5 linked regions of the Homo sapiens genome follow. The protein of the gene in region 3 purifies or fractionates together with the protein of the main gene of each other region. This does not show direct contact. Each region holds a gene or a part of one and is shown on either strand. Other genes may lie near its edges. The genes, in order: TOMM70, CPT1A, CPS1, TMLHE and PTPN14.

The links.
Region 1: the proteins of CPS1 (region 3) and TOMM70 fractionate together in Homo sapiens (co-fractionation; one large-scale study listed by BioGRID). This does not show direct contact.
Region 2: the proteins of CPS1 (region 3) and CPT1A fractionate together in Homo sapiens (co-fractionation; one large-scale study listed by BioGRID). This does not show direct contact.
Region 4: the proteins of CPS1 (region 3) and TMLHE purify together in Homo sapiens (co-immunoprecipitation; one large-scale study listed by IntAct). This does not show direct contact.
Region 5: the proteins of CPS1 (region 3) and PTPN14 purify together in Homo sapiens (co-immunoprecipitation; one large-scale study listed by IntAct). This does not show direct contact.

The regions. Positions count from the first base shown.
Region 1 is NC_000003.12:100,383,773-100,387,651, forward strand, and holds part of TOMM70 (mitochondrial import receptor subunit TOM70), read right to left. Parts: intron 3,207-3,879; coding exon 3,033-3,206; intron 2,573-3,032; coding exon 2,446-2,572; intron 817-2,445; coding exon 707-816; intron 1-706. UniProt on the Homo sapiens protein: Acts as a receptor of the preprotein translocase complex of the outer mitochondrial membrane (TOM complex). Recognizes and mediates the translocation of mitochondrial preproteins from the cytosol into the mitochondria in a chaperone dependent manner.
Region 2 is NC_000011.10:68,758,215-68,762,093, forward strand, and holds part of CPT1A (carnitine O-palmitoyltransferase 1, liver isoform), read right to left. Parts: intron 3,474-3,879; coding exon 3,321-3,473; intron 2,125-3,320; coding exon 2,011-2,124; intron 1,448-2,010; coding exon 1,355-1,447; intron 1-1,354. UniProt on the Homo sapiens protein: Catalyzes the transfer of the acyl group of long-chain fatty acid-CoA conjugates onto carnitine, an essential step for the mitochondrial uptake of long-chain fatty acids and their subsequent beta-oxidation in the mitochondrion.
Region 3 is NC_000002.12:210,601,220-210,605,098, reverse strand, and holds part of CPS1 (carbamoyl-phosphate synthase [ammonia], mitochondrial isoform b precursor), read right to left. Parts: intron 2,898-3,879; coding exon 2,769-2,897; intron 1-2,768. UniProt on the Homo sapiens protein: Involved in the urea cycle of ureotelic animals where the enzyme plays an important role in removing excess ammonia from the cell.
Region 4 is NC_000023.11:155,494,424-155,498,302, forward strand, and holds part of TMLHE (trimethyllysine dioxygenase, mitochondrial isoform 1 precursor), read right to left. Parts: intron 1-3,879. UniProt on the Homo sapiens protein: Converts trimethyllysine (TML) into hydroxytrimethyllysine (HTML).
Region 5 is NC_000001.11:214,548,689-214,553,224, forward strand, and holds the start of PTPN14 (tyrosine-protein phosphatase non-receptor type 14), read right to left. Parts: upstream 2,915-4,536; 5' UTR 2,495-2,914; exon of another isoform or gene 2,264-2,494; intron 1-2,263. UniProt on the Homo sapiens protein: Protein tyrosine phosphatase which may play a role in the regulation of lymphangiogenesis, cell-cell adhesion, cell-matrix adhesion, cell migration, cell growth and also regulates TGF-beta gene expression, thereby modulating epithelial-mesenchymal transition.

The sequences.
Region 1 (3,879 bases), on a different chromosome or scaffold from region 3:
AACAGTGAATCTCCAGTGATGTTTAGTGATGCCTATGGTACTCTCTTTACTTACATCTCACCTTGGGCACTTAACTACTGCATGCCTTTTATACACAGTAACAGTCAGTCTCTCTCACTAAATTTTAATTCTATAAGGGTAAGGGCCATGTCTTTGAACCCATCCCTCCAAAATGCCAAACATGTAGCTTTGTTTAATAAATGATTGTTGAATTAAACTACCTGTTAATAATAGCCTAAAACTAATGCCAACTTACTCAGTATACCTTTAAAAACTTTAATAATATAGAAAAATATTTTTCTGTGAAAGGCCAGATAGTAAATATTTTAGGCTTTGGAGTCTATACAGTTTGTCACAACCACTCAACTCCGCTGTTGTATCTCAAAGGCAGCTGAAAACAACATGTGACTGAACATTATTTATAAAAACAGGTAGCAGACTGGATTTGGCCTATGGGCCACAGTGTGGCAATCCCTAACACAGATGAATTCCAATATTCTCCAGGTAGAGTAATGGACAGAGCATATATTCTTACTGAAGAAGGACAAGCCATAAAAGCCAAAGATAACAGGAAGAAGAAATATAACCCAGTTCTAATTGCAGTTGTTGCCATTACCACTATGCCTAAGCTTAAGCAGCATAAATTAGAAAATACCCTTCACAATGTACACAGTACTCCCCCATTCCCCAAATCAGATCAATTTACCTTATATTTTTCTTTGGCTTTCTCTTTTCCAAGGAGTTTAAGAACTTTATCGGCTAACAGCATGCTTTGTTGATTTTGGAACCCTTCTAATATACACACAGCAGTGACATCTAGAAATGATGAAAAACACAAGGGTAAATATAAAATTATTGCAAAGATGGTCAGCAGCATCAAATGGGTACAATGTAACTACAGAAAGCCAAACTAAATTCATGGCCAAATGGGACTGTTTCATTTCCAATTAACTGATTCTTAATACCTAATTTTATATTCTCTATGACCAAACTGAAAGCTCAGAAAGTCACTCCACTTCTCTGGGGTTTGCTTTCCTTAACTGTGAAATGAAAGGGGCTATGCTGCATGATTTCTGATGTTTCTCACCACTCTAACATTCTCTTCTGGCTAGCAACTCTAAGGCATATAAACATAGTGTGGCTCTCTCATGTCTGGTGTTTGTTTATAGGCCTCAGAGTTATTCCCTGTCTCCAAAGCCATCTTGCCACAGAGCTCTCAAATAAATCTGCCTCAATACCATTTTCATCTGGTTATGTCACAGCTCAAGATGCATGCAGTGGTTTGAAATTAAAAAGTAAGTGGTTCCTTAACCTCTCAGCCTTTCGTTCAAAGCACTCAAACAATGGACGTCTCGTCTCTTCCCGAATTAAATTTCTTGCAATTCCACATCCTTGCTCCACCAATCAAGTCAATCTGCTGATATATTCCCCTGATAACCACGGCTAGCGCCAATGTCAATGTCTTTTTTCCCATCCTGTTTCTTCTACGTGACACTTCGATCAACCTCCTCTCTGCCAGTTATTGTGTTAGTAACTTCAAGGTCTGGTTCAAAACTCAGGATTCCCTTTTCTAAAACAACAGTCTTTTCACACACTACCAAAGTATGTGCCACCACAAAACCTCAAATTTTGCTAAAATGTTCTCTAAAATACCCTCATTTGGTAATCTACACTTTTCTTTTCAGAAAGGGGCCTTTTCCTTTTACTGATGCTTTTAAAGCAGACAAATATATTAAGTGGAAAGAACTTTTAGATTGTAGAAAATTATACTTTGGTTTTGCTTCATGTCACCTAGAAGAATGTACTTTAAAGGCTGGATGTATACTGTTAATTGCAGCTTTGGAAGCAGAGAAATGGCCAATCAGAGACCACAGAATATTTATGGCATTTAATGAGAATGACAAATTCACTTTGATGCTTTGTACCAATTACATCATTTCCAATTAGGTGTAAATTAGGTATAAAACAATAATTTCCAATTGGGTATAAAATAATGTTTGAAAATACCAAGGGCACAAAACAATGTTTTCTTTAATGATTCATCTCAAAGCTATGTTTATACATATTATAAACACAGCTCTCAAAGCTATATTTATACATATTAAATGAAATATGTAGAACCTTAGAAACACTATCACTTGCTAAAACTTCTTTTCTGATTTCCTTATTCAGAGAATTATACTAATGCTCATTAGCTGCTAAGTTTAAAATGTGTAGTACATAAACTCCTAATCTTAATAGTCATTTAATTCCATAGTTGAGAACAGAGACAATACTTAAGTATCAGCAATCTTACTTTAAACTAGAAGACACAATCTTAAGTGCAAAGGAATCCAACTTTTAAAAACAACTGATTCTTGCACTCACAAGGCAGTTTCATATACATTTACCAATGACTACAAAATATTAAGTAATTTTCATATGTAAACACAAAATTACCCTCACCTTCTAAACATTCCTTCTTATTGTCTAGCTTCTCATGGGCTTTTGCACGTCTAAAGAGAGCTTTCACATATTTGGGATTAAGTTCAACAGCTTTTGTACAGTCTTGTGCCACTTCTTTCCATTTTTGCTGTAATTGAAAGTATTTAAAAAAAGTCACACTAAAGAAAGTACTGTTCAATAGAAATCAGTTTAAACTTGATAGGTTGAGTATTAAAAGTCCTAGAATAAAAAAGTATTCCTAATACAAAGAGTTAATATCTGCAATATATTACAAAAGCTCATATAAATATCAAAAAGTTAAAGAAATAGCCTCAAACTGTTGAGGAGAATAGGGTCACCAGAAACTTTCTATACTATCTAATTTTATAAAATGTGAAATATACTTAACTTTGGAGTATATCTGTAGTCAGCAAAACTATAGAATTTGTTCTTTAAAAAGTTTTGCAATTAATGGAAATAAGAACAACATCCCATAATTTTGAAACAACTTCAAAAAATGTATTAGGTTTATTTGAGTAGCTTTAACTGAAACTTTAAGCAAATAAAGAGAAAGAAAAGGAACAGAAGAAACAACCTAGAGTACATACCAACTGTTCAAAGGCAGCAGCTCTGTTTTGATAAAATGTAGAAAGGTCAACATTCTTCTCTGTAGGGCACAAGCTAATAGCCTCAGTATAGCACTGAATAGCTTGTTCATATTTTCCTGCTTTAAAATATTTATTGCCTTTATTCTTGGCTGCTTGGGCTCTATCAAGAGAGTTCTGAAATGAGAGGAAACAATTATCAAACACTAATCAACATTCACAGACTCAGACCACAGTAATTAAACAATAAATTGATAAAAACAGGAAGACAGAATGGCTGTTTACAATGTAAGTTGCTTCATACAAATATCTTCATGGAATAGATTCTAACTAGTAGGATTGTTGAGTCAAAAAGCATATCTTGGCCAGGCATGGCAGCTCATGCCTATAATCTCAACACTTTGGGAGGCTGAGGCGGGTGGATCACTTGAGGCCAGGAGTTTGAGACCAGCCTGGGCAACGTGTCGGAACCCCGTCTCTATTAAAAATACAAAAAATAGCTGGGTATGGTGGCACACGCCTGCAGTCCCGACTACCCGGGTGGCTGAGGCATGAGAATTGCTTGAATCTAGGAGGTGGAGGCTACAGTGAGCCGAGATCATAGCACTGTACTCCAGCCTTGGTGAGAGATTGGGACTCTGTCTCCGCCTGCCCCCCCAAAAAAGCATGAGAGGTGTCTTGCTATGCTGCCCAGGCTACTCTCAAGCTCAAGCAATCCCCCTACCTCCATGTTCTAGGCAGATGGGATTACAGGTGCACACCACCACGTCCAGCTAAAAGACACAGACACAGACACAGACACACACACACACACACACACACACACACACACACGTATATACTTTTTTTT
Region 2 (3,879 bases), on a different chromosome or scaffold from region 3:
CCGAGATCACACCACTGCACTCTAGCCTGGGTGGCAGAGTGAGACCCTGTCTAAAACAAACAAACAAACAAACAACAAAAGAAAACCGCAGTGAACAAATAAACCCCAACTTCCTCTGTTAACAGCGACAGTGGCATGGGTTGCCAGGCTATGTACGACAAGGAAAGCAGAATATAAATAAGGGCAATGTGCCATGCTAGGGAGGAGGTCCCTTGTTCCATCCACAGAGGAAGCCGGGGGTCCCCTGCTCTGTATGCAGATTTCTTAGTGTGTACCCATTATTTTTAGTTCATCTTCCAAGTGCTAAAGAGTCTGAAAGTTACAGCAGCACTCCAACGTTAAGCTTCAAAACCATTGCTGCCAACAGAGGTAAACATGTTAAACCAAATTAGATACATTTCCTTTTTTTTTTTTTTTTTTCTGAGACGGAGTCTCACTCCATCACCCAGGCTGGAGTGCAGTGGCATGATCCTGGCTCACTACAACCTCCACCTCCCGGGTTCAAGCGATTCTCCTACCTCAGCCTCCTGAGTAGCTGGGATTACAGGCGTGTGCCACCACACCAGCTAAGTTTTGTATTTTTAGTAGAGGCGGGGTTTCACCATGTTGGCCAGGATGGTTTCAAACTCCTCACCTCAAGTGATTGGCCAGCCTCAGCCTCCCAAAGTGCTGAGATTATAGGTGTGAGCCACCGTGCCTGGCTGAGATACATTTGTTTAAAACTAGGTAAAGAGAATTTTGAAATTCACTTATGGCTGGGCACAGTGGCTGAAGCCTGTAATCCCAACACTGGGAGGCTGAGGTAAGAGGATCGCGTGAGCCCAGGAGTTCAAGACTTGCCTGGGAAATGTGGGGAGACCCTGTCTGTACAAACAATTTTTTAATTAAAAAAATTTAGGCCAGGCGCGGTGGCTCATGCCTGTAATCTCAGCACTTTGGGAGGTCGAGGCAGGTGGATCATCTGAGGTCAGGAGTTTGAGACCAGCCTGCCCAACATGGTGAAACCCTGTCTCTACTAAAAATACAAAAAAATTAGCCGGGGTAGTGGCGGGTGCCTGTAGTCCCAGCTACTTGGGAGGCTGAGGCAGGAGAATCACTTGAGCCCGGGAGGCAGAGGTTACAGTGAGCCAAGATCTCGCCCCTGCACTCCAGCCTGGGCGACAGAGTGAGACTGTGTCTCCAAAAAAAAAAAAATTTTTTTTTAAAAGCAGTCCATTTATGTGAAAATTCCCGAAATCAAGTAAAAGCAGGCAGTTGAATTGACTTTTTCTGTCAAATTAAAGATGTGTTTCCTTAAAAAGAATAAAGCAAAAATACCCCATCTTCAGAAAAAGGAACTTCTTTTCATACATACCGTCTCAGGGCAAGAGAACTTGGAAGAAATGTGGAAATTGATGAGGTTCTCTCCCACAAGGATGTACGACACACCATAGCCGTCATCAGCAACCTGGAGGACAAGGGAATTTGAATTTGTTGCTGGGAAATGAGACAACGTGAAAAAGGGACTTTCTAATGTTCTAAATGCAACACTGGCGGGGCTCGGTGGCTTCTCCTTGTAATCCCAGCATTTTGGGAGGCTGAGGCAGGCGGGTCACTTGAGCCCAGGGGTTCGAGACCAGCCCGGACAACATGGTGAAACCCTGTCTCTACAAAAAAATACACACACACACACAAATTAGCTGGGCATGGTGGCATGCATCTGTAGTCCCAGCTACTCAGGAGGTGGAGGTGGGAGGATCACCTGAGATGGGGGAGATTCAGGCTGCCATGAGCCATGATCATGCTTACTGCACTCCAGCCTGGGTGACAGAGCGAGACCTTGTCTCAAAAAAATAAAAAATAAGTGCAAGACTGCCAAGGACATCCATAGCAATGATCAGCAGTAATTCCTTTACGGCGGTAGAACCGCAAGGTAACGGGGGCACCCAGCACGGAGATGGGCCCATCACACCCCATTACCCATCCCATCACCACGCCCCACTGCGCCTCGCCCAGCCCCGCCGCACTCACCGGTCCAAAGCCCCCTCCGCTGGACACGTACTCTGGGTTATTCTCCAAGTCAAACAGCTCCACTTGCTGCTGAGGGGTCTGGCTTGTTGATAATCTCCAAGGCTCAGATAAAACCTATTGAGTGAAACAGGGAAATGTTTCCTAATCCCCTCCTCTACCGTCCCTCAGGAGTCGCTTTGGGAAGACGAGAAAAGCCTGGCTTGGTCTTTTGATTGTTCCACACACCACAAGTCTATGTCTCCAAAGGCCTCACTGGCTTGGGCAGCGTATCTGCAGAGAGCATGCGGGGTGGGTGGGGCCCCCAGACTGGGGCAGGGAGTGCAGGGTGGGGGTGGGGGCATACCAGCAAATAGCATCTCAGACAGTGAAGGTAACAGATATATGGAGTAAGATTCGGAACGGGGACAGAGGTGTCAGACTTGTACCAACTCCCACGAGCCAGCTGCCATATTTTCAGAGAATTTTCAAGCTGGCTATTAAATACAGCCACTATTAAAAATTAAATTTGCCAGGCGCAATGGTTCATGTCTGTAATCTCAGCACTTTGGGAACCCGACGCGGGTGGATTGCCTGAGCTCAGGAGTTCGAGACCAGCCTGGGCAACACGGTGAAACCCCGTCTCTACTAAAATACAACAACAAAAAAAATTAGCCAGGCATGGCAGCGTGTGCCTGTAATCCCAGCTACTTGGGAGGCTGAGGCAGGAGAATAGCTTGAACCCGGGAGGCGGAGGTTTCAGTGAGCCAAGATGGCGCCACTGCACTCCAGCCTGGGTGACAGAGCGAGACTCCATCTCCAAAAAATAAAAAATAAATAAATAAATAAATAAAACTTAAATTAAATTTGAGCTGGGCACAGTGGTGCACATCAGCTACTCAGCAGGCTAAGGACGAAGAATTGCTTGTGTCTAGGAGTTTGAGCCCAGCCTGGGCAACACTGTAAGACCCTGTCTCAAAAAACAATAATAATATATTTCATAAACTTACAATAAAATAAAGGATTTTTAAAACAAAGGTGGTACGCGCTCACAGCTCATCACTCCCTAGTTACTTCCGTGCGTCTTACTGTGACGTAAGCTCTCGAGGTCTTCGGGTCTATTAAGTCAGGGGCTACATGTGACAGCGAAGTTTTTGAAGAAATGCAGTACTAAACGCGCTGCTCACATTTTCCATTTTATGACAGCTACACCCACAGACCCGTTTTTTTCAAATGCCCATTCTGACATTAAAATATGTTCATGCAAGGCTGTAGTAATTTACTAAGTTTTGGTCTAGCCAATACAACTGACGGAAGAAGTGGAAGAGACTTACTTCCTTAAGGAAAGGGGACTCCACAGCGAGATATTTAGACACCACGTAAAGGCAGAAGAGGTGACGATCGATCCCAGAGCCGGTCATGGCGAGGCGATACATATGCTGATGCTTCTCAGACGCCAACTTGAACAACTTCAGCCTCTGTTCCACCTGAGTGACAAAAGGTGGGAAGGACATATGTTGCATGTCTCAAGTTGAGCAGTTACGGATCTAAGTTAGCCACCGCACCCGGCTAATATTTTTTGTTATTTTTAGTAGAGACGGGGTTTCAACATGTTGCCCAGGGTGGTTTCGAACTCCTGAGCTCAGGCAATCCGCCCACCTCATCCTCCCAAAGTACTGGGATTACAGGCGTGAGTCACCGCGCCCGGTCTGACAGCCTTTCCAGAATGAAGTTTGTCTCGGAAAAAAGAGCCCTGGCCAGTGTCTCCTCTGGGGATCAGCGGAAAGCACCTGCACGCTCTGGGGATCAGCAGAAAGCACCTGCACGCTGGAGTCAGGCGGACCCAGTGGCCTGGGTCTGACCTCGGCCATTAGTGAGCAGAATGGCCCAGCA
Region 3 (3,879 bases):
GAAATTGGTGACAAAAGATATCAAAGAGTAAGAAAAAGCACTGGCTTCAACAAGGATATTTGGCAAAATACCCTGGCATAAATCCTGGTCAGCACTGAACTCTCAAACCCCGTCTCCATTCTCCCCTGCACAGAAGGCACAATGTGTCAGAAAATCAGTGAGGTACTAGGAATAGCATCCTGCAGTGAATATGCTTGATTTACATTATTGAGGCTTGCCATTCAAAGTGCTGATATGACAGTAAATCAAACTAATTTAGGAAAAAGAGAAAATAATTGAGCAATCAGGCAGAGGGAAATGAAATTATTTCAGCAGCTAGGCTTCTGTGAAACCAGAAAATGTGATAAGTGTGAATAAATATGGAAAAATAAGTCTAAAGACTCTGGCTCTCTCTAAAATAGCTGAGGGTGCTTTGTACAGTGACACACACAATAAAAGTTAGTTGATGTTGATGAGGAGGAGAAAGGAGATGATGATGGTTGTAAACGGTTAGCCAAGATGGCATATAAAACTTGAGAATTAGAAGAATCATATGGGACTATTATTATGGTTAATCACTGCCTAAATGCTTAAATACTCTGAGTCATATATCATGTATGCCTGATTAGACAGATATGAATTAGCATAATTATAATTTCATATTTACGGCACACCCACAATGGGTAGAATACTGAACCCAAAATAGGAAAGTGGTAATCTTTGACCTTAGGACATGCAGTGGCTGATAATCCAAGGGAGAAATGTCTTATTGTCTTATAATATATTTGATTTGGATTGACAGTGAAAGGGAAAGCAGTTTGAATTTTTTCAAATTATTAATAGGCATTAAAATAATAATTTAATGTAAGTTTTTCTGTAATGTGCCTTAATAGGATTTTTTTAAACTTCAGTCATCACTACAGGCTCCAGCACGTGCAAATGAAAATGTGACACATTTGTCCCCACAGCTGCCCACGATGAGGTTCTCAAAGTGGTTAGAAAATTCAGTAGCCAATGTTAACAATTTAATAATGATTAATTCATCATTCCGGTTGCCTGCTAAAAGAAGAAATCTAGGAAACAAAGGGTATAAATTTGGAAAAGTATTTTGCATTCTAATGAAGTAAAATGGATATTTAGATACAGGGAAAATTTGAAATTATCTTCACCTGTTTCCTCAGCTTATTTTTATTTTTATTTTTTGAAGTCTTCGATTTTATGTAAAAAGTTAATTTAGGGACCTGGATAAGTTAATGCAGCTTTTAATGGTGCTAATTATAACCTCAAGAGAATAGGGGATTGTTTAGGACATAATGATATGACTAATTATTCTCAAGGGAAGAGCGAGGGTTTTTTTCAACAAGAAAAACCATTTAAGGGACTATTGATTATTTGAGTACAATATAAATAATTGAAAGCTATTTCATTCCAAAATTCTCTTTATTATAAACTTTCTTACATGAAAAGTTCAGTCTTCAGATTGGTTTCTTATAGAGTAAAAAAATTAATAGAGAATATGTATACACTGTCACAATTGGCAGTTATGAAGTTGTTAATATTGAAAATATTTGGAGCCTCTAACATGCTAGAGGAAATAAACTTTCTATCTTCAAAAACATGTTTTTGCTCTAAATATGTGATTCATATGTCCAGAATGGTAACAAGAAACATTTATGTGAGGTATGTTTCCCTTTTTTGTAATTTTCACAACTTTAGAAAAACGAAACCCAAGTTGTTTATATGTAAGTCTGCCATTGTAGTTATTTAAATATGCTGAATTGTACTTATCTGTTTTCAAAATTCTATGTCAACAATTCAAGGGTCTCATTTCACTTCAGTTCAAAAAGTAAGTAAAGATGAAGCAATAAGCTGTCCGTGAGCTATTTCCTAAATAATTCCCAAAATAGCCCTTACAGTAATTCTGTCAAATTCACTTCTATGACTGCCATGTAAGTTACACAGGTTTCTTGGCTGCACGTGTAATCATTCTTCAAAGACATTATTGAACTCCTGGTATTTCCAGGCACTGTTCTATTTTGTGGAAATAGAGTATAGACAAAAGTCTCTGTTTTCCTGGAGCATATTTTCTGCATTAGTCTCTAATTTAGTTTTTGTAGCATAGCTTACTTTTCTCAAGAGTTTTCCTCTAACATGCAAAGAAAGAAGTAGTTCCTAATATGTTAAAGTGATTTTGATAGAAAATAAATTATAAACCCTCAAATCTCTCGTGTTTTTATGAGTATATGGCAGTTGGTGGAGTTCAGTCATTTACTGTATTGAGTGGTTTATACCATGTATATTTTAGACACCTTAATTTTGAGTAAAGTCAAACTACTCAATGTGCTTTGTTTCACTTTCTGGATGTCACCCATGCCAGCCACATTATTTCTAAAAAATTAAAAATGAGACATTATGTCCTATTTTTCCTTAACCACTAAAACATATTTTAGCATTTTAAATATTTGAGAGTAGATTTTGAAACAAAGGAAGAAGGAGTTGAATTAAGTTCATCTCCTTGAAGTCAATAGATTGTACTATAAAAGTGGAATTTGAGGTAAAGTGACCACTGGTTTACCTTGAACCATGTGGTTTATCATTGCATCCTGGCATGAAGAGTTGCACTGCATGCTCTCGCAAAAGTGTCATCTTTTGGAATACGCTTTTGGAGAACATGATCATGATTTAATAAAGAAAATGTAATTTCTCATCTACATAACTTTCTCTAGTTGAAAAGGTCTATCAAGCCAGTTTTTTTGGTTGGTAAGAATATTGTCTACAAAAATACATACCTTTGTGCTGAGGTCCATCAAAGTCTCTCTGTTGGGACAGATGCCTGAGCCTAACCCACCCAGTGCATAGGCGGAACGGATCATCACTGGGTAGCCAATGGTGTCTGCTGCCTTCAGTGCATCCTCAATCTGTCAACAAGAACAAGGACTCAACATTTTAAAAGCTGAGCACACTGGCAGAACAGACCACACCAAGAGAGTCTGGCAATCAGGTAAACCAACTTATGTGGGGAGAGTGAATCTAGAAATGTTCTATTATTCCCTCATCTCATTCTGAAAAGCAAGTGTTGTTACTCAAATGTTAAGTAAAATTCTAGAAGGGAGGATATATATATATATATCTTCTAAGAAATACACTTTTGCGGTAAATTTTATCCTGTCCTATTGAAACAGAACCATGGTCAAAGCAGAAATAATCATCATTCATTTGAGAATGGCAGCCATATTGAATTATTGGATTTTTACGATTTTTACATGCAGCTTAAAAGTCTCTGTCTTAATGAAACCAGGTTCTCTGCTGCTGAAGCTAGCTTGATGTTACCACAATAAGCCATTAGGAACACTGTATATAAATGGATTTTTCATTTTCAAGTTCAGTCTGAGCATAGTCCCAGAAGCTTGGAATTCTTTTTTTTAACTTACAGAATACAACATATGGTGGCTATATTTTTCTGTCATGGAATATTATTACACTACCAATGGGAATGTAATTACACCTTTCCCATATGCCTGTTTCTTTTCCTGAGGAAGCAAGGACATAATTAAATCTGGCAATGAAAGAACAAATGTATGGCAAGAGCTTCCCAAATTGTGCAGCAGAGTTATCCTGGGATTATTTGATTGACAAGTTTGTAACACAAAAGATACTTGGTAGCATTGTCTTCTGAAACATACATAACCCATTTTTAGTTGTCCCAGCAGTACCTGCTTTATTCCTAAGGGTGTGCCTGTTTCTACCATGGAGAAGTTGGATTTAACACTGCCCCTAGCACCTCCACTTCACCAGCTATGAGCCTGAAGTCAAAAATAAAGTCAGGGGCAAAAACAGATATAAAGTGAGTTGATTCTTTTTCCTGGTAACTGTTAATAGCTTATTGATAGGCATAAGGGG
Region 4 (3,879 bases), on a different chromosome or scaffold from region 3:
CCAGCCTGGCCAACATGGCGAAACCCCATCTCTACTAAAAATACAAACAAAACAAAACAACAAAAAAATTAGCCAGGCGCGGTGGCACGCGCCTGTAGTCCCAGCTACTTGGGAGACTGAGGCAGGAGAATCACTTGAACCTGGGTGGCGGACGCTGCAGTGAGCCAAGATCGCGCCACTGCACTCCAGCCTGGGCGACAGAGCGAGACTCTGTCTCAAAGAAAAAAAAAAAAAGAAAGAAAGAAAGAAAGAAAAAGAATATAATAGTCCATCCTCCCAGGCTTCAAGGAGCCATGCCTGGAGGGAGAATGGAGTGAGGAAGCACAGTCTTCACCAGGCTGTTGACACCCATTGTCATTTCCAGAAACTTCTAGTGCTGGGTTAGGCATTTGTGAAAATATTATTTAATTTACTTATTTCATCATCCCAGAAGGAAAGGTGTTATTAACCTCCTTTTACATTTAAGGCAACTGAAACTTAGAGACCTGCCACAGAGTTCATACGTAGCAGAGAGGTTTTGAAATCAGGTGTCCTTAATTCTTTAACTCATTGTTTATACCAGAGAACAGAAAAATGATCGTAATTCCTGTGTACGCTTGTTCATGAGAGCAACATTTTTACAGATCACACTTACAATCTTTTGACTTCAAACTGAGATTTGCAGTTTAGAAATGTTTCCATATACACTATCTGATTGACCCTCTGCATGATAACCACGTGAGGTAAGTAGTACAGCTGTTATTGTCTTACTTTATAGATAAGGAAAATAATGATAAGACCTTGTGATTTGTCCAAGCTTACATGGAATTTGGTATTCACTATTTATATTAGATGGTGGTGTTTTCTAAAGCCAACAGAGAAAGTAGCAGGAAAAGTCTATTACACATAAGCAAAATGGTTGTGCAATACTTTGGATTAGAATAAGACTATTTCTGGACTTTGGCACAAAGTGATGCCATCATATTATTGTGCAGTTTTTCCTTTTTTTCCTGCTTTGATATGAAGCAAGAGAGACGTGGGAGTAGGGGAAAGCAAATAAAGCAGGCATTTATCTGACAAGAAAAGCTAGGAAGATTTAACAAAGTTATCCTTCTTCTTAGTTGACAGACAAGTATTTCCCAAGAGAGCTCCATAATTGAGCAGACGATGCATTTGATGGATTTGTGTATTGTGGTGTAAGTGAAAGCTGGTGGGCTTTCAGATAGGTAGATAAATAGGCTTTCAGTTAGATCACCATTACAATCTCAGTTCAGGTGTGTGACCTTGGAGGAGCTATAGAAATTATAAAAATGCTAGAAGAAAACCTCGGGATGACTCTCCAGGATAATGCTCTGGGAAAAGATTTTATTCCCCAAAAGCACAGGAAACAAAACCCAGAAATAGACAAATGAGACTGGATTAAACTAAAGAGTTTCTGTGAGGCAAGGGAAACAATCAACAGAGTGAAGAAACAACCCACAGTATGGGAATATGGCCATTGTAGAATGGCTGTTATTACAAAGACCAAAAATGACAGACGTTGGCAAGTATGTGGAGAGAAAAGAACTCTTATACATTCAATAAACGGTGCTGGGGAAACTGGATGTCCACATGCAGAAGAATGAAATTAGACCCTTTTCTTACAACATATACAAAAATCAACTAGAAATGGATTAAACGCTTACATGTAAGACCTGACACCGTAAATCTACTAGAAGAAAACACATGGTATAACTCTATGATATTGGTCTATACAATTACCTTTTGGATATGATCCAAAAGTATAAGCAACGGAAGAAAAACTAGGTAAATGAAATTGCATCAAACTGAAAAGCTTCTGCACAGCAAAGGAAACAAAAGAATGAAGAGACAACCTGCAGAATGGGAGAAAGTATTTGCAAACTATACATCTGATAAGGGGTTAATATCTAAAATATTTGAGGAACTCAAACAACTCAATAGTAAGAAAACAAATAACCTGATTTAAAAATGGGCAAAGGATCTGGATAGACATTTCTCAAAAGAAGACATACAAATGGCCAAGAGGTATATGAAAAAGTGCTCAACATCACTAGTAATCAGATAAATTCAAATTAAAACCACCACGGGATATCATCTCATACGCCTTAGGATGGCTATTATTAAAAAGACAAAAGATAACAATGTTGATGAGGATGTGGAGATAAGTGAACCCTTGCACACTGTTGGTGGGAATGTGAATTAGTGCAGCCATTATGGAAAACAATACGGAGGTTTCTAAAAAAAGCTAAAAGTAGAACTACTACATCATCCAGCAATCTCACCACTGGGTATATACCCAAAGGAAATGAAATCAGTATGTCCGAGAGATATCTTCCATGTTCTTTGCAGAAATATTCACAATAGCCAAGATATAAAATCAATCTAGGCAGAATACATGGGAGTGTATATAGAGAAAATGTGGTATGCATAAAAAGTGGAATACTATTCATCCTTGAAAAAGAAGAAAGTCCTGTCATTTGTGACAACATGGATGAACCTGGAGAACATTAAGTGAAAATAAGCCAGGCACAGAAATATCAATACTGCATGATCTCACTCATATGTGTAATGTAAAAAAAAAGTTGATATCATAGAAATAGAGAGCAGAATGGTGGGTACTAGAGGCTGGTGGGTTGTGGAGTAGTGGTTGGGTGGTTGGGGATATGTTGCTCAGAGGATACATAATTTTAGATCAGAGAAATAAGTTCAAGTGATCTATTTTTCCATGTGATGACTATAGTTAATAACAATGTATCGTAATTTGAAAATTTCTAAGAAACAGTCAATCAACGGAGTGAAGAGATAACTCACAGAATGTGAGAAAATGTTTGCAAACTATGCATCTACAAGAGATTAATACCCGGAGTATATAAGGAACTCAAACTCAATAACCAAAAAAGACATATTCCCTTAAAAATGGACAAAAGTTCTGAATAGACATTTCTCCAAAGAAGGCAGACAAATGGCAAATGGGTATATTTTTAAATGCTCCACATCACTAATCATTAGGGAAATGCAAATCAAAACCACAATATCACCTCACCCCAGTTACAATGGCTATCATTAAAAAGACAAAAAATAGGCTGAAAGTAAGGATGGTTAGTATGTACAAACACAGAGAGAATGAATAAGATCTAGTATTTGGCAGCACAATAAGGCAACTATAGTTAACAATAACTTATTGTATATTTAAAAATAACTAAGAGAGTAGAACTGGAGTGTTCCTAACACAAAGAAATAATAAAGGCTTGAAATGATAGATACCTCAATTATCCTGATTTGATCATTACATATTGTATGCCTGTATCAAAACATCACATGCACTCCATAAATATATACAACTATTATTTACCCATAATAATTAAAAAAATCAAAATTTAATTTAATAACATAAAATATAATAAAGTGATCTTAAAAGAAATTTGCCCGTGGTTAGATATTACTTGTTACACTTTAATTGATGATTTCTATTATAATTTCATAGTACTTAGAATATATATATATATTAGAAAATATCATCTATAGGATTTTTGCTTTCATGAGGGTAATGATATTTTAAGCCTAAAATATTAGAATTTTCAATAATTTTCTCTAGTGTTTGGAAATTATTTTAATCCTCTGTTTAGTGCTCAAAAATGCTGTTCATTTGTGACTGATTAGTTAAACTTTCTAATAAAGTGATTTTACACTCTTTATGTTAAAGAAACAACAAATGCTGGTGAAGATGTGTAGAAAGGGGAAATCTTATACATTGTTGATGGGAATGTAAACTAGTACAGGCAATATGGACAACAGTACTGAGGTTCCTCAAAAAATTAAAAATAGAACTAGCATATGATCCAAAGAACTCACTACTGGGTATTTTAAAAGGAAATGAAA
Region 5 (4,536 bases), on a different chromosome or scaffold from region 3:
CCCCGGAGCAAATTTAAACCTCTAATAAGGAAGGAAGGCACTGGAAAATAAAAAATCCTCATAGTTCTTGACACTTAGCCCATCCGTTCAGGGCAAATAAGAATTATTCTAAAAATTCTGATTTTTCTCTGAATTCCTTATGGTGCTTCCCTATTAAAAGCCTAACTGTCCTTTCTATTACAGCTACCAGCATGACACAGTATGCACAAATCTGAATAACTCAAGTGTTAATAATAATTACATGTTTAAGCCAATGATGGAAACTGGGCAAATGTCTGGGATTAGTGGGAGTGGGCTTCTCTTCAGCCATTTCTCTCATGCAGGTCCCTACACCTTCAGGAAAACTTCTGTGAAGGGGCTGTTCCTGAGATAAGAAAAGATGCTGGTAGAGGGGCTTGGATAAACACCCAAAGTTGTAGGAAGTCAGTGTGTTCTTCCCACTCTGATGTACTGGCCTGAGGTCACCAAAAGCTGGATGTCTGCCACCTCAGCCAGGACTCAGCCACTATGAACAATACTACAACACCACTTCAGTCCAGTGAAGAGACACCCTTGAAAGGCAAACCACGTACAGAATGCTACTGCATTGTAAGAAACTTTTCTAGGCAGGATTTGCTGAATCCTGGGCCATTAGTCTACAAAAATGTGCAAGATAGTGTTTTCTATTTTCATAAAGTTTCAGAGAAAAGAACGACTTTAGCACAACTGTGCTAAAGCAATAGTAATGACTTAAAAGCAGAGAAAAGTATAACAAACTTAGTGACATACAGATGAACGAATTTTGCACCTCATGGCCACCCATTCAGACTGGGCAAAAAGGGCATCATGCCATTCAGCTCCCGCTCATTAAGGCTGTCATTTCTATGGCACAAGCTTCAACCTCATCACCAAACAATTAGCTAACTTTATAATACAAGGTCCGTAATGCTGCGGTATTACCACACCTACGGCTGTCAAACAGCCTTTTTAAAAAAGGAATCATTGCTTGAATGTGGGGGACAAAAAAGAAGAATCAATACCATTTTAATGAAACCGAGCATGGGCCAATTAAAATGTAGATGATCATACAACAGCTGCTTGTGGTAAAACAGCAGCAGGCATGGAGGTGTATCCAATTAGGGAGGCCTTGGCTCCTCGGTAAGCTACTTGTGGTTCCCATAAGTGGCTAACGTGCTTCTAGATTTATTTCTGATATTGGGGGTGGAGAGAATGCTATCCCAGCAACACTGCACCAACATGGCCATAAATGCCCCTCAGGCCCCCAGATGGCTAGGGAAACTTTCTGTCCTTCTTGTGTTCACTCTGCACGAGCTGTTTCCTCTGCCTGGAATACACCCTCCAGAGGAGCACAACCTCTATCCTCTAAGTGTAGTGCACCCTTCACCAGGACCAAGCTCGCCTCAGACTCTCACAGAACCCCTCTTCCATGTATTATCATTCTTCACCGGCCTTCAAGTTTCCTCCACTAGGCTGCAGACTCCTGCCCTGTGATCTCATTTAGCATCTTTCTATCCTGTTCCTAGCAGAGTAGAAGCTGGGTTTGTTGGATGAATGAGTAAACTAATCCATTTCAAGAAGTTAACACATTGGTGGAAACTCTGTAACTGCCCGCACCTGCAGTCTAGAGATTCCTCACCTTCACAAAGAACCTGCGACAGCCAGTCCCTAGACTTAAGCGGAAACCCCACAATTTCTGAAATTGTAGGTGGGGATGAGAAGGTTGGAGAACAAGAACCCAAGGAAGTGAGAGGGAAAGGGAGATAGGGGCAGCGTTACCTCACTGCTCTCTCCAAACGAAAAGGTGTAAACCCCATTTACAAGTATTCAAACCTGAGATCTGGGGGTCACGTGGGGAAGGAGAGGCTGTTAATACCTACAACTTTGGAAGTTTGAGGTGAAGACCTGATCTGAAATTGTTTGGCCACAGCTTTTTTTCTACGAGCCAGCTCGACCACCCAAGTAGGAGCCTCGACGCCCAGGAGTTCGGTGGCACCACTGGGGCCTAGTGAGAGGGCAGGAAAACTCCGCTCCCCTCAAGATTCCTTCCCGGTGGTGGTGGGGTGTGATTGGGAGCGTCGGGCAGCTGCATCCCCCTACCGCTGCAGCGACCGCGACGTCGTTCGTCTTTCATCCTCTAGCCCCCAAGGTCTAGGTATCTCTAGTTGCCCTTCCGAGGCCCTCTCTCGTTCCCAAAACGCAGAAGGGAATGGAGAGAGGGGACCAGGGTGTGGGTTTAACCACAAACTCCCCAGACTGCGCTCACCTTCCAGCTCGCTCCCGGGACCAGCTTTGCGCCTCACCGCGGGCAGCTCCCACCGCGAGATAACACCCCTGCGGCCCGGCCACCCCGCGCCCCAGGCTGCCCTGCCAGGCGTCCCGGGGCGCCAATCGCAAGTTGGCGTTGCCAGCGTCTGCCCAAGTCATCTGCAGGGCGCCCGGAGCGCCAAGGCGGCCTCCAACCTCGGGCCCAACTCCCGGCTTGGACGGGGCTTACCTGCTTACATGGCCCCCGTGGCGCCCCGGAGTCCCGCGCGGAAAGGCTGTCCTTCGCGGCGGCGGAGCCGATTCCCCACGGAATTGATTCCAGTGACTGGCGGAGGAGGGGCGAAGGGAAGGAGCCGCAGGAGGCGAAAGGGGAGGGAGGTTTCCGCCGCGATCCCGGCGCGAGAGTCCGAGCAGAGGCGCACCGGGGGAGAAAAGGAGAAAAACCTAAGCACGGGGCTGTCCCGCCCGAGGAGGCCGGGGAGGATGGCTCAGCTGGGAGGGGAAGGAGCGCCAGTGGCCACTTGATGTCTGTCTAGGGCTCCCCGAGGACCTGAGCCAGGAGAGCAGGCGGCTGAGCCCGGAGAAGCACAGCAACCTGCCCCCGAGTCTGCGCCCGCTGCGCTCACTCCGCCGAGAAAAAGTTGGAAAGAACTTTGAGGGGCCGGGAGAGCCAGAGCGGCAGGAAATGCGAGCGGCCGGGAGAGGAGGGAGGAAGGGGCCGTGCGAGTGGGAGGGGACGGAGCAGGCGCCGGCGGCCACGGCTCCCCCACCCCAGAGCCGGGCTCCGCGGCCCTGGGGGCCGGGAGGCGGAGGGAGCGCTGGGCGCGCGGCCGGGGGCGGGGAGGAATGCGGCCCGGGAGGGCGCGCGCCGGGGGCGCCGCGGGCGCGCGCTGAAACGTGGAGCCCCAGCTCCCGAGCTCCCGAGCTGGAGGCGCGCCGTCCTTGGGGACGTCACAGCGCTGGAATCCGAGGAATGCCGGGCTGCAGGAGCTCCTTCTGCAGGCCCGGAGAAGTCGCACACTTTTAATGGGGTAGTTTTGGAAAATGTTTTAAAAGGTGGGGGCCGAGGACGGAGGACCGGATGAAACTCCCTGGAGTAAGAGACGTGGAAGTGGAGAGAGCAAGGCGACCGCAGCCACCCCAACCCTGGGCTGCTCCCGCCGTTGGGGAGAAAGAGGCAAGGCAAGGAAGAGCCCACCTAGACTTCCGAGGACCGCAGAGACGGGGCGGCGGCAGGAACTTGCTCACCCCGACCTACATTCAGAATAGTCCACCTTATATTGGGGAACCCTCCAAGCAGGACGTTTCATGCAGCCACCCCACAGGGGAAAACAGACCAGGAGAAAGTAAGGTGGCCTCACCAAGTAGGCAATCTCAGAGATCTCTCCCTAGAATCTCTGGGTACTGGACCCGGTGTCTTAGCCTTCTCTCCCTGCCCCCTCCCGCCCCGTAGGAATGATAAAAAGCAGCCTGTGTGCTGAGAGTTGGAAAATGTCGTTTTCCCGGTTTGTTCCATGCCACAGAATCGCCCCACCCTGCCTGGGTAGGCACTGGGAGGGAACTTCCTTAGCACTTTCGGAGGTGGAGTTAATGAGACGCAGCTGGTATGATGGAAAAAGCTCGGAGCCAGGCGACTGAACCTGGGTTTTAGGCCCTGCCCGATTGGATAACTGAGGAGTATCCCAGCCCCTGAGATCCTAGGTTTCTGTAGCTGCAAAATTAAATAATTTGTCTAGATTTCTGTGGTCCTTTGCATTGCTACAAACATGTCTTGGGATTTATCTCGGTAAGATTCCAGTCCTTTGTTGAAAAGGGACCTTGAAGTCGTTGGCACACAATGTATTGTCCCAAATCACTTCAGTGTCCGGCAACTCATGCAAAAATTCCTGGCCTCTTGGGGAAGAGAATTGGAAACCAAAAAGCGCGGTGGCTCACACCTGTAATCCCAGCACTTTGGGAAGCCAAAGCTGGGGGATTGGCTGAGCTCAGAAGTTCGACACCAGCCCGGGCAACACGGTGAAACCCCGTCTCTACTAAAATTCAAAAAATGTTTCGGGGGTGGCGGCGTGCGCCTGTAGTCCCAGCTACTCTGGGGCTGAGGCAGGTTAATTGCTTGAACTTGGGAGGCGGAGGTTGCAGTGAGCCGAGATCGCGCCACTGCACTCCAGCCTGGGCTACACGGCCAGACTCCTCTCAAAAAAATAAAATAAAATAAAATAAAATAAAATAAATAAATCCGTAGTGACTCTGATTTTCTTCGAGCATCTGCCA